Regions from separate parts of the Homo sapiens genome. Here region 2 is linked to region 1. Evidence: fine-mapped expression QTL. A gene starts in region 1. The other region holds a variant in brackets. All regions are shown on one strand. Distances are between the middles of the regions.

Region 1 (5,394 bases):
ATTGGTTTCCCAGCCATGCACTAATTTCAACCCACCCTACCCAATATTGCCAAAGTAATCTCCCAATCCCATTTTGTGACTGCCAAACACTGACTGCCTATTATACTCAATTCTTTAAATTTAAAATTGAGTCTCCTTATAGACTAGTTTGTTTACATTTTAACTTTGTCACTACCTTCTATTAACAATGTTCCATTACAGATAAATAGGTTTTCATTATCTAGAATGCAGTTATAGTCTTGTTTCTTGTCTTTGCTCATGGCATACTTTCTGGACGGTCTTTCTCTTTGTCATCAGGGCCATTTTCATTAGGTTGTCTTTCCACTAACATTTGGGGAAGCTGGGCTTGATGGCAGGTACCTGTAGTCCTAGCTACTTGAGAGGATGAAGCAGAAGAATCATTGAGCCCAGGAGTTCACGGCTGTTGTGCACAATGATCATGCTTGTGAATACCCAGTGCACTTCTGCTTGCGCAATACAGCAAGACCCCATCTCTTGAAAAAAAAAATGGGGAAACCCTGGGGACTATAAAGAGGACAAAGATAGCTCTTAGAGTTCAATGAAGTAAGACCATCCCTCAGTGTCCACAGGGGATTGGTTCCAGGACACTCCCACATACCAAAACCCCAGGATGCTCAAGTCCTTACACACAATGGTATAGTATTTGCATACAAACTATGCACATTGTCCCATATACCTTAAACCATCTCTAGGTTACTTATAATACCTAATACAATGGGAAATGCTATGTAAACAGTTGTTACATCCATATTGTTAAGGAAATAATGACAAGAAAAAAAGAGTCTGTGCGTGTTCAATGCAGACATTACCATTCTTTTTTTTTTTTTTTTTCAATTGTTTTTGTTCCAAAGTTGGTTGACACATATACAGAAGCCATGGATACAGAGGGCTAACTGAATTTCCTTCCAGGCCAGGACTATGTAATACAAATATGATGCAAGCCACCTATGTAATTAAAAATTTTCTAGAAGTCACATAAAAAGTAAAAATAAAGTTGAAATTAATTTTAACATATTTTATTTGATCCATTATATATTATTTCAACATGTAATCGACATAAGAATTACAATATTTTACATTTGTTTTCTAAGTCTTTGAAATCTGGTGTACATTTTGGACTCATTGCATGTCTCAGTTTGGACAAGCCACATTTCAAATGTCAAGAGACGTATTTAACTGGTGGCTACCCCAATGGATAGGGCAGTTCTAGGTAGTCTATTTTCAGTTCCTCTCTTCTCCCTTAAGCCTCTGGAACTGTGATGGGAATAATCTGTCATGTGAATTCCTAGCACTTATCAGCACCTCTCATTATCACTTGGCCTCCTTGCATTATTTATTTTTGTGATGCATTTGTCTTGTCTCATGAACTAACTTGTAAACTCTATGAAGTCCAGGACCAAAGACACATGTAATCTCAAGACTGGAAATATCTTTAACAAAACCATCAACTAATTATTCTGTTGATGTGTGGCTCCCCTGTACCAAGTCCCTATTAAGTGAGCTTCAGAATCTCCTTGAAGCAAAATTCTGTGGTTGAGGTATTCACACATGCTAAGGTAGGCAATTCTTTGGGTCGTGCTACAAGGGCATCTTCTTTTCAGGATCTTAAATCTGTTCCCTGAAGTTTGCATCACATGAAACAAATCAACTTCACATGATAGGTCATTTCATATTTGGAGAGAGTCCAGTAGTTTTCTCTCTTCTAGGTGAGTCCTGGAAGGTTTAATCAATCCTTCTTCACTTGCCCTGTTTTTGAGTTCTCGTCATCATTTTGCTCTTCCCTGATATAATGCCAGCTTGATTAAAGTCTTCAAATGCTGAACACAGCACTTCAGAGGTGGTCTGACCAGTAAAGACAATAACTGGATCACTATTGGCTGCCTCTACAAAACAGTTCTACCAGGCATCGGGGCACATTACCTTGAGGAAGCGGGAATGGCAGAAGAGAGCCACAACAAACATATTAACTCATACTATCTTTGCATTGTTGGCTTTTAGTCTAGAACTCTTTGCAGATAAACCACACAATTCTTTAGGTTAGTTTTTCTTCGTATCTTCCTATCTTTTCAATCGAGTTAGGGAATCTTTGGGCTTTCTGTTTTTGGAGGAGGTCTTCTGACCGAAGAGCCGACTTGCAGAGATCACTTTGAGGGAACTAAGCTGAGAATCCAGAAAGCTTATGGAAAACAGGCCTTGACACCAGAGAACCATGTATACTCTCTAGCAGCCAGAGGGCTTTGGCTGAAAACGACGATAGCAACTACCTGTTTCTTCATTCAAATTGCTCTCCTTTCCTTTACCTTTAATAGGAATTATTTCCTCCACATATTTACCTTACAGAGAAGGGCGGGGAGAAGACGCGGCAGACTGAAGTAAATGCAGGGAAAAAACTCACAGGTAGAGAGGTAGAGACGGCAGGCCTGGCCCGTTGCGGGCAGCCAGGGTAAAGTGGAGCGTCCCGCTCCCGCCCTGGGGCGCATCCTCGCCGCCGCCGGGACCTTCCGCCTCTGCTCCTCCGAACCCAGCGGACTAGAGGCTGGAGGCGGGAGGCGGAGCGGCGCGCGCACGCGGGCGGGGCAGAGGGCCCGGAGTCGACGAGTCGACGTGCCGACGTTGGCGCTGCAGCGGGGCGGTGACGTGTAGGCCGGCGCCAGCTCCACTCTGTCCCTCCTCGCCGGGTCTGTGCGTCTTTGCGTCTGTCTGTCTGACTGATGGTCCTCACACGCGGTTCCCTGTGACTGGGCGCGACCCCGGCAAGCGCGGCTTGGAGGGCGGACGGGGCGCGGCGATACAGCTGCCCGCTCGCATCTTTGGCCCTGCGCTCAGCTCCTCACCCGGCGTGGGAAGTTAAAGTAAAACCGAAAGGGAAGAAGGCGCGGTGGCAGGAGCTGACAGAGTGATGGGAAACGCGTGAGCCAGGCCGAGAGGTGAGGAGGTGGAGGTGGAGGTGGGAGGACGAGAAGGGTCGCCGCGGCCAGGGGAGCTGGCTGGAGGCGGGGACGGCGAGGCGGGCTACGCGACCCGCCAGAGATTCTCTTCCTGCCTCCGGGGCAAGTCCCGACCTGTCATCCTTTTCAGTGGCATGAGGTCGAGTCCGGGGTCTCGCAACAATACCGCCCATTCCTAGAGTTTGTAGGTGGGGTTGGGGATAGAAAACTTAACCTAAGCTACATATTGTCCAAGTGTTAAGCCACAACGTGACCAGATGAGGTTTTTCTGTCCCATGCATGGGTAATTTGTTTTCTTTTTTTCTGTTACAAAGCCTTGATAACTTCGTTTTCTTCACGTAGATTTGGGGAAAGAAATCTTCCTCATATTTTTCCCCCAACACACTGGAAAGTAAATAGGTAGCTGACCGTGATGGATTGTGGGTGAATTTCGCAATCAAGGAGCCTATAATGTCATTTTGAAATAAATAAATGTGTATGTGGGTGCTAGGGAGGTTTTGTGAGTACTGGGCAGTCATTTCAAATAGGTTTCTTATAAATTAACTTACTCATGGAATGCAGTGTGCTAATGGTATTTGCTATTCTTTGGTTTAAAAGAAGCATAATTCTAGGGGCTGGTAAAAGTTTGATGTGTTGTCACTTGTGCATTCAAACTCATGGTTACATTTTCTTTCTTTCCCTAGGTTAGGTGAGATTGACAGCCATTTTCTCCATCACCAGATTTTATGTTTCATAGATTGAAATCCTTTTTCTGATTCTCAAAGTTCTCAAATGTTGAGAATTAAGCTTTTGGTTTTACTATGGATTGTGCTCCAGTTTATGTTGTCTCTTTTTTTTAATGATGGTTATAATAGTCTTGCATGAGAAAAATGATCCTTAAAGATGCTCTTAAGCTTAGGCTAAATAATCCTATTTATATGAGAAATTAATTTTTCATGGTTCAGCTTTCTTGATCCCTGCTTAACAGTTTTTTGTCATTCATTCATTCAAGTCTTCCTATGTGTCAAACGCTGGGCTAGGCCTAGGAGAGCAAGAGAGAGACAGTCTCTGTGCTCATGAACTTTCTATAATCCAGCAGCCTCCTTTTAAGACAGAATCTTGACTAGGGTTCTTTCTCATGCCATGGATCTGTAGTTAACCAAAACAAAGCTTTTAAAAGAAAAAGTTATTGTCAATGTATATATGTAATTGGCATTGAAAGGGGAACAGATGATCTTGCTTTAACAGCATGATTTGATATTGCCTTTGATCAAAAAGTAGTATATGTACCAGTGGTTTGCCATTTCAGAAGAGTAAGTTTTTCTTTTTCAAAGCTTGTTTAAATATAAAGTTCACAGTTCTACCTCAGTTTCTACCTCAAAAAAAATAAATAAATAAAAAGCTTTTTCTTTTGAGGTAGAAATCAGTTTCTTTCCAGTCTTCACTTTGGTCTGATTGATCTCCTGTGTATCTCTGGAACCCCTAGGCTCAAGCAGTCCTCCTGCATCGGCCTCCCAAAGTGCTGGGATTACGGGCCCCATTTTGCCTTTTTGTATGCTAATGAATTGACTAAGAATTTTGTCTTAGCTAGCTGGCTGCTCCTAGTAGCTTCAGGATGGGGGCTGGTTACCAGAAAGGTCAAGGAATTATTAGAAGGTTGGGACTTTCATCCCCACCCCCTAACTGCTTAGGGAGGTGAGAGAGGGGCTGAAGATTAAGTTGATCACCAGTGGCCAAAGGGTTTAATCAATTATGCCTATGTAGTGAAGCCTCCATAAAAACTCAAAATGACAGGGTTCATAAAGCTTCTGAAAGCTGAACATGTGGAGATTCCTTGAGGTGGTGTGCCCAGGAAGTACTTGGAAGTTCTGCATGGAAATTCCCTTCCCTTATAAATTACCCTATCCTATGTATCTGTTCATCTGTATCCTTTGTAATATCCTTTATAATAAATTGGTAAACGTGTTTCCCTGAGTTCTGTGAACCACTCTAGCAAATTAACCGAACCCAAGGAGGGGGGTCATGTAATCCCCAATTTATAGCTGGTCAGTCAGAAGTACAGATAAAAAAGCCTGGAGCTTGTAATTGGCATCAGAAGTGGTGGGCAGTCTTGTGGGATTGGGCCTTCAATCTGTGGGATATGACAGTATCTCTAGATAGTGTCAGAAATGAATTGGAGAACACTCATCTGATGTCTGCTGCAGAAGTGATTGTTTGCTTGGTGCATGGGGAGAAACTCATACACATTTTGTCACAGACATCTTCTGTGTTGATGGTTGTCGTGTGAGAGCAGAGGAAAAACGGTTTGAGTTTTTTCCACTCTCACAAGAGGGCAGGCGTAAATTCCTTCAGTCTGCCTCCCAGAGGCTCATGGATTAGGGTGGAATGAGAATTTTGTCTTTCAGACATAATCTGTGCTAGGCCCTTTTCCACTGGACTTTCGTGG
Region 2 (5,394 bases), 240 kb after region 1:
ATTTGCTCTGCTGACACTTTTGGGTACTTCTCAAATGTTTTCAGGATTTTTTGTTTGCATTAAACAGAGCATGGGAAACACATCCCCACTTCTCCAGCCCAGAACATGGACCATAGACCTTTTCTTCAGTCTAATTGGGCCAGTATTTGTCATGTGCCTCTGCCTTACCACAGCAGTTGGGAGGGGAATCCCATGAGCTGATTGACTTATGCCAATCAAAATTATCCCAGGGGATGTGGTCACTTTTTCTTGAGTCACATGAGGGAGAGATGCTTGCTGAACAAGACTGGGTTCTGCAAGGAAGAGCGAGACAGAGAGAGTAAGAGAGAGAGAAAGACATTGAAATGGATAAAGCAAAATACAGTATATCTATCCAATGGGATATTATTAGACAATAAAAAGGAATGAAAGCATTGATGCATGCTAAAACATAGATGAACTGTGAAACCATCATGGTAAATTAAAAACTCCAGTCACAAAAGACTGCATATTATATGATTTTATTTAATTGAAATTTACAGATTAGGCAAATCTGTAAGGAAAAGGTAGTGACTACTAATGGGTACAAGGTTTCTTTTTGAGGTGGTGAAAATGTTCTAAAATTAGATTATGGTGATGGTTGTACAACTTTGGAAATATATTAAAATCATTTAACTGTATACTTGAAATGTTTAAATGAGTAAACTTTGTAATATAAATGATATATCAATAAAGCTTCTAGAGTGAGAAGATTGGATGCTATCCCTTATTTGAGTTATGATATGCATAGTAGCAGGATGCTATTTTTCTTCTAGGTACATGGGACAGTAGGAGAACCTTGGTGGATTTGGGTAGAAGATCCTACAAATGATCATATTTATCATTCAGAGTATTTTCTAGCTCTAAAAAAACAAGTAAGTGTATATATGTGAATATATCCTTATTTGCTATTGTAAAAAAAATTATACTAACAGTTTCTGCTTTTATTTCTCTGTAATTTTATAGTACAATTAAAACTTTATTTTATGTTTTAGTTTCCTATTAGTTTTAAAAGAATACAGTGATTAAATGTTATAGTATTGGTATATTCAATGTGATCATGGTTTAAGAAATTCACTTACCAGTAATGCCCCACATAGTGACATTTCAGTGAACAAGGGACCACATACACAACAACAGTACAATAGTGGTCCCATAAGATTATAATACTGTATTTTCACCTACTTTTTCTAGGTTTAAATATGTGTAGATAGGTAAGTACCATTGTGTTATAATTGCCTAAAATATTCAATACAATAACATGCTGTATGGTAACATGCTGTATAAGAGCAGTAGGCTTTGCCATGTAACCTAGATATTTAGGAGGCTATACCATCTGGCTTGTCTACGTACACTATGATGTTCTTAAGACAAAATTACGTAATGACACATTTTTCAGAACCATTCCTGTCATTAAGCAATGCATGACTGGATAATCTTTACCATGGTTTAAGACCTGGGTTCCAGAGGTGTAGAATATGTAAAATAGGTAGGATCAATAATAATCTTAAGGGTCACATGCACAAAATACTGAATACTATTGGATTAAAAGAGCATTTCTTCTAAATTTCTTTATAAATCACAAGACAAAGACTCAATTTGATGGTATTTCTTTAACTGATGCTTCATTCGTAATTTCTGTTTTTATCAAAGATAAAGCAAGCTTCAGGTAAGAGTCTTGGGTAGGCAACAGTAGAATTTCATAGCAGCGTTTTGTATTCATTGCTTTTGTCTGCTTGGTTACCTTCTATTTGTACCAAGTGATTGCGGTATTCCATTTTAGGTACTGATAGAACTTAACAAAAAATATTAAGTAAACAATATGGTAATTCGGTAAGGTAAAAATCATGAAGTTATGTAATTGAATGAATGATGTTTGGGAAATTCAGGTAGTCAAATTGGTAACTTGTTAATACATGATTATATGCATATGTAAATAATATAAATTAGCCATAAAATTTTACCTTCTATCAGGTATCCTCAGAAGGGCACCATGCACAATTTTCTAAAGTTTC[C/T]GAATATCTCAGCTATTTACAAATTCAAGATACTTTGTCTTTAGTATATCTTGTAGAGATACCGTTATCTTAACAATAGACTAATAAGGCCTTTATGCTATTAGAATATCCATATTTATTTTTGACTGTATTTCATATTAGGTCATTAGTAAAGAAGCCCAACTACTGGTATTTACAATCCCTATTTTTGAGCCTTTGCCTTCCCAATACTACATCCGAGCAGTGTCTGATAGATGGTTGGGTGCTGAGGCAGTATGTATTATCAACTTTCAACATCTAATTCTACCAGAGAGACATCCTCCTCATACAGGTAACATGGTGAATGCTGATTTGAATCATTGATTTTTCCAAAATGGTTGTTTTAATTAATGTTGAAAAATGTCTACACCGTAATAAAGTTTTACTTGTAATCATTATAACTTCTCTATAACTCCCTTTTTATTTCATTTGTCATTCATCATTTAATCTGTTCTCTCTGTAAAACTTTTATTTTCTCCCTTGCGTTTATTCCAGTTTACTTAAACTTATTTCTAGTATGTTAAATTAACTAACATACCAGTGAGTTATGGGGAATTTCCCCCCATCTTTTGTGTTTCTACACCAAAAACAAAAAAGCTAATATTAAGGAATCATATTATGGTATCACTATGGAATGGATTTCCACATACCTCAAGTGAGTTTGTGTCCTGCAAATAACATCTACCCTTTATATTAGTTTTTTTTTTTTTTAATACTTTAACTTTTAGGGTACATGTGCACAATGTGCAGGTTTGTTACATATGTGTACATGTGCCATGTTGGCGTGCTGCACCTATTAACTCGTCATTTAACATTAGGTATATCACCTAATGCTATCCCTCCCCCCTCCCCCCACTCCGCAACAGGCCGCGGTGTGTGATGTTTCCCTTCCTGTGTCCATGTGTTCTCATTGTTGAATTCCCACCTATGAGTGAGAACACGTGGTGTTTGGTTTTTTGTCCTTGCGATAGTTTACTGAGAATGATGGTTTCCAGCTTCATCCATGTTCCTACAAAGGACATGCACTCATCCTTTCTATGGCTGCATAGTATTCCATGGTGTATATGTGCCACATTTTCTTAATGCAGTCTGTCATCGTTGGACATTTGGGTTGGTTCCAAGTCTTTGCTATTGTGAATAGTGCTGCAGTAAACATACATGTGCATGTGTCCTTATAGCAGCATGATTTATAATCCTTTGTGTATATACCCAGTAATGGGATGGCTGGGTCAAATGGTATTTCTAGTTCTAGATCCCTGAGGAATCGCCACACTGACTTCCACAATGGTTGAACTAGTTTACAGTCCCACCAACAGTGTAAAATAAAAAACCCCATCAACAAGTGGGCAAAGGATATGAACAGACACTTCTCAAAAGAAGACATTTATGCAGCCAACAGACACATGAAAAAATGTGCATCATCACTGGCCATCAGAGAAATGCCAATCAAAACCACAGTGAGATACCATCTCACACCAGTTAGAATGGCGATCATTAAAAAGTCAGGAAACAACAGGTGCTGGAGAGGATGTGGGGAAATAGGAACACTTTATATTAGTTTTATCCCTCTGCCCTAACATTATAAAGGGGTACGTGGTAATCTTCAACATCATACAATAGTGTTTTTCACTGTCATACCTTGCAAAAATCCATTTTAAATTTTGGTGACGTGAACAAATACCTTTTTATTTTGACTTAATATAGAAGCAGATTTTTCAGGAATAAATGTTTACAATGATACTTTTAAGTGCCCTATGAAATACTCTATTTCAAAAAATCCTAAACTAATCTGTTAATTAACTAGTATAATAAGTTTATTTCTTCTTTTTCAGAATTGATTTTAAGAGGGCCTTAATTTATAGAAAAATGAAAGTCCATATTTTTTCTCATATGGTTCTTCCAAAGAGAAACCCTTTGTCATTTTCAGAATAAAAATATAGTCCTCACTACTTTTAATGAACTCATTATTTGGCAGTCCTTTGGGAATTGAAAGAGGTCTTAATGTGACTTTAAACTTTGCCATTTTTGTCAAATGTGTACCCTATTCATTATCTTAGCTTATCTTAAAGAGAGATACTTTATACTTTGGCTTAATTCCACTTTGATATCTTGGCAGAACAGAACTAAAAGGCTTGTCAACATAGAAAAATAATGAGATTGTAGTATCTAGTGATCTACTCATTGAAGGGAATCTTTCCAGTCTTCTTTCATCAAGTGTGCTACATGTAATATTTAGAATCTCAGAATAAAATATATAAAAAATGTTTGGTGCTTTAATTTAAAATACATGCTTCAAACATCATTAATCTTTGAGTATAGCACTTGATCTTAACTTGCGTTAACATTCTATTTCAATGTTCATTTTATCTTTTGTCTGCCAAATGACCAAGAATGTATCACCCTATTTATATAATTAGCTGAGTTCTGACTACAATTTTAAAAACAATAAATGTACCACCATAACATCTCAGTTGATATTAGACATATACAAAGTAACCTCAATGATTCCAGGGTCTCTTTGAATATATAGTCATTATCATTGAGCCCAAATGAGCCAAGAAAAACCTTCATCTTTCACTAATGTAAAGCACTGTAATTTAACATCATCAGTAAATATGCAATATGCAGTTTATTTATTTATTTATTTTTTAGTCTTTTTAAGAACATATCTCGGCTTTGATTAGCATTACAAGCATTAACTTGCAATGCCTCCCCTCCTTCCTTCTCTATTATTTTTTATTCATTTTATTTTATTTGTGAGACAGAGTTTCACTCTTTCACCCAGGCTGAAGTGAAGTGGGATGATCTGGGCTCACTGCAACCACCACTCGCCGGGTTCAAGCGATTCTCCTGCCTCAGCCTCCCGAGTAGCTGGGATTACAGGCGCCCACCACCACGCCCAGTTAATTTTTGTATTTTTAGTAGAGATGGGGTTTTGCCATGTTGGCCAGGCTGTTCTCGAACTCCTGACCTCAGGTGATCCATCCGCTTCGGCCTCCCAAAGTGCTAGGATTACAGGCTTGAGCCACCGCTCCCGGCCTCAATTTTCAGTGCTTCAGAAAATTTAAGAAACCTACAGTCTGGTGTAGAAAGTATGTCGTTAGCCCTCAGTTACCTATGTAATTAACTGAATAGAGCAGTGGGGAAAGGATAATTTTTTAAATTAATTTTTTGACTTTTAAAGACATTTTTTAAGAAGAAAATTTGCCATACTTTCATTTTGAAACAGTACCATGAACATCTAACTCAAGGTACAGAATACTATGTTACCTTATGGATTATTTCTTCTTGTTCAAATTTCAAATGACTGGATTTATCTTTCATGAAATAATCTTGAGAGTAA

The links. PIP is the estimated chance that this variant, and not a neighbour inherited with it, causes the effect.
Region 2: its variant is fine-mapped to the expression of ASCC3 in whole blood (TOPMed, PIP above 0.99).

The regions. Positions count from the first base shown.
Region 1 is chr6:100,878,615-100,884,008 of GRCh38, reverse strand. It overlaps ASCC3 (activating signal cointegrator 1 complex subunit 3), which reads left to right and starts at 2,680. Exons shown (of 42, transcript NM_006828.4): 1 at 2,680-2,948. LOC107984041 (a long non-coding RNA gene) reads right to left here and starts at 2,552. Exons shown (of 8, transcript XR_007059692.1): 1 at 2,355-2,552. RefSeq lists an enhancer at 2,717-2,836.
Region 2 is chr6:100,639,530-100,644,923 of GRCh38, reverse strand. It overlaps ASCC3 (activating signal cointegrator 1 complex subunit 3), which reads left to right. Exons shown (of 42, transcript NM_006828.4): 23 at 795-893; 24 at 2,175-2,343. Among named protein-coding and RNA genes, the nearest start is that of SIM1, 180 kb to the right of the region's middle. The variant C/T (reference allele first, on the strand shown) is at 2,034.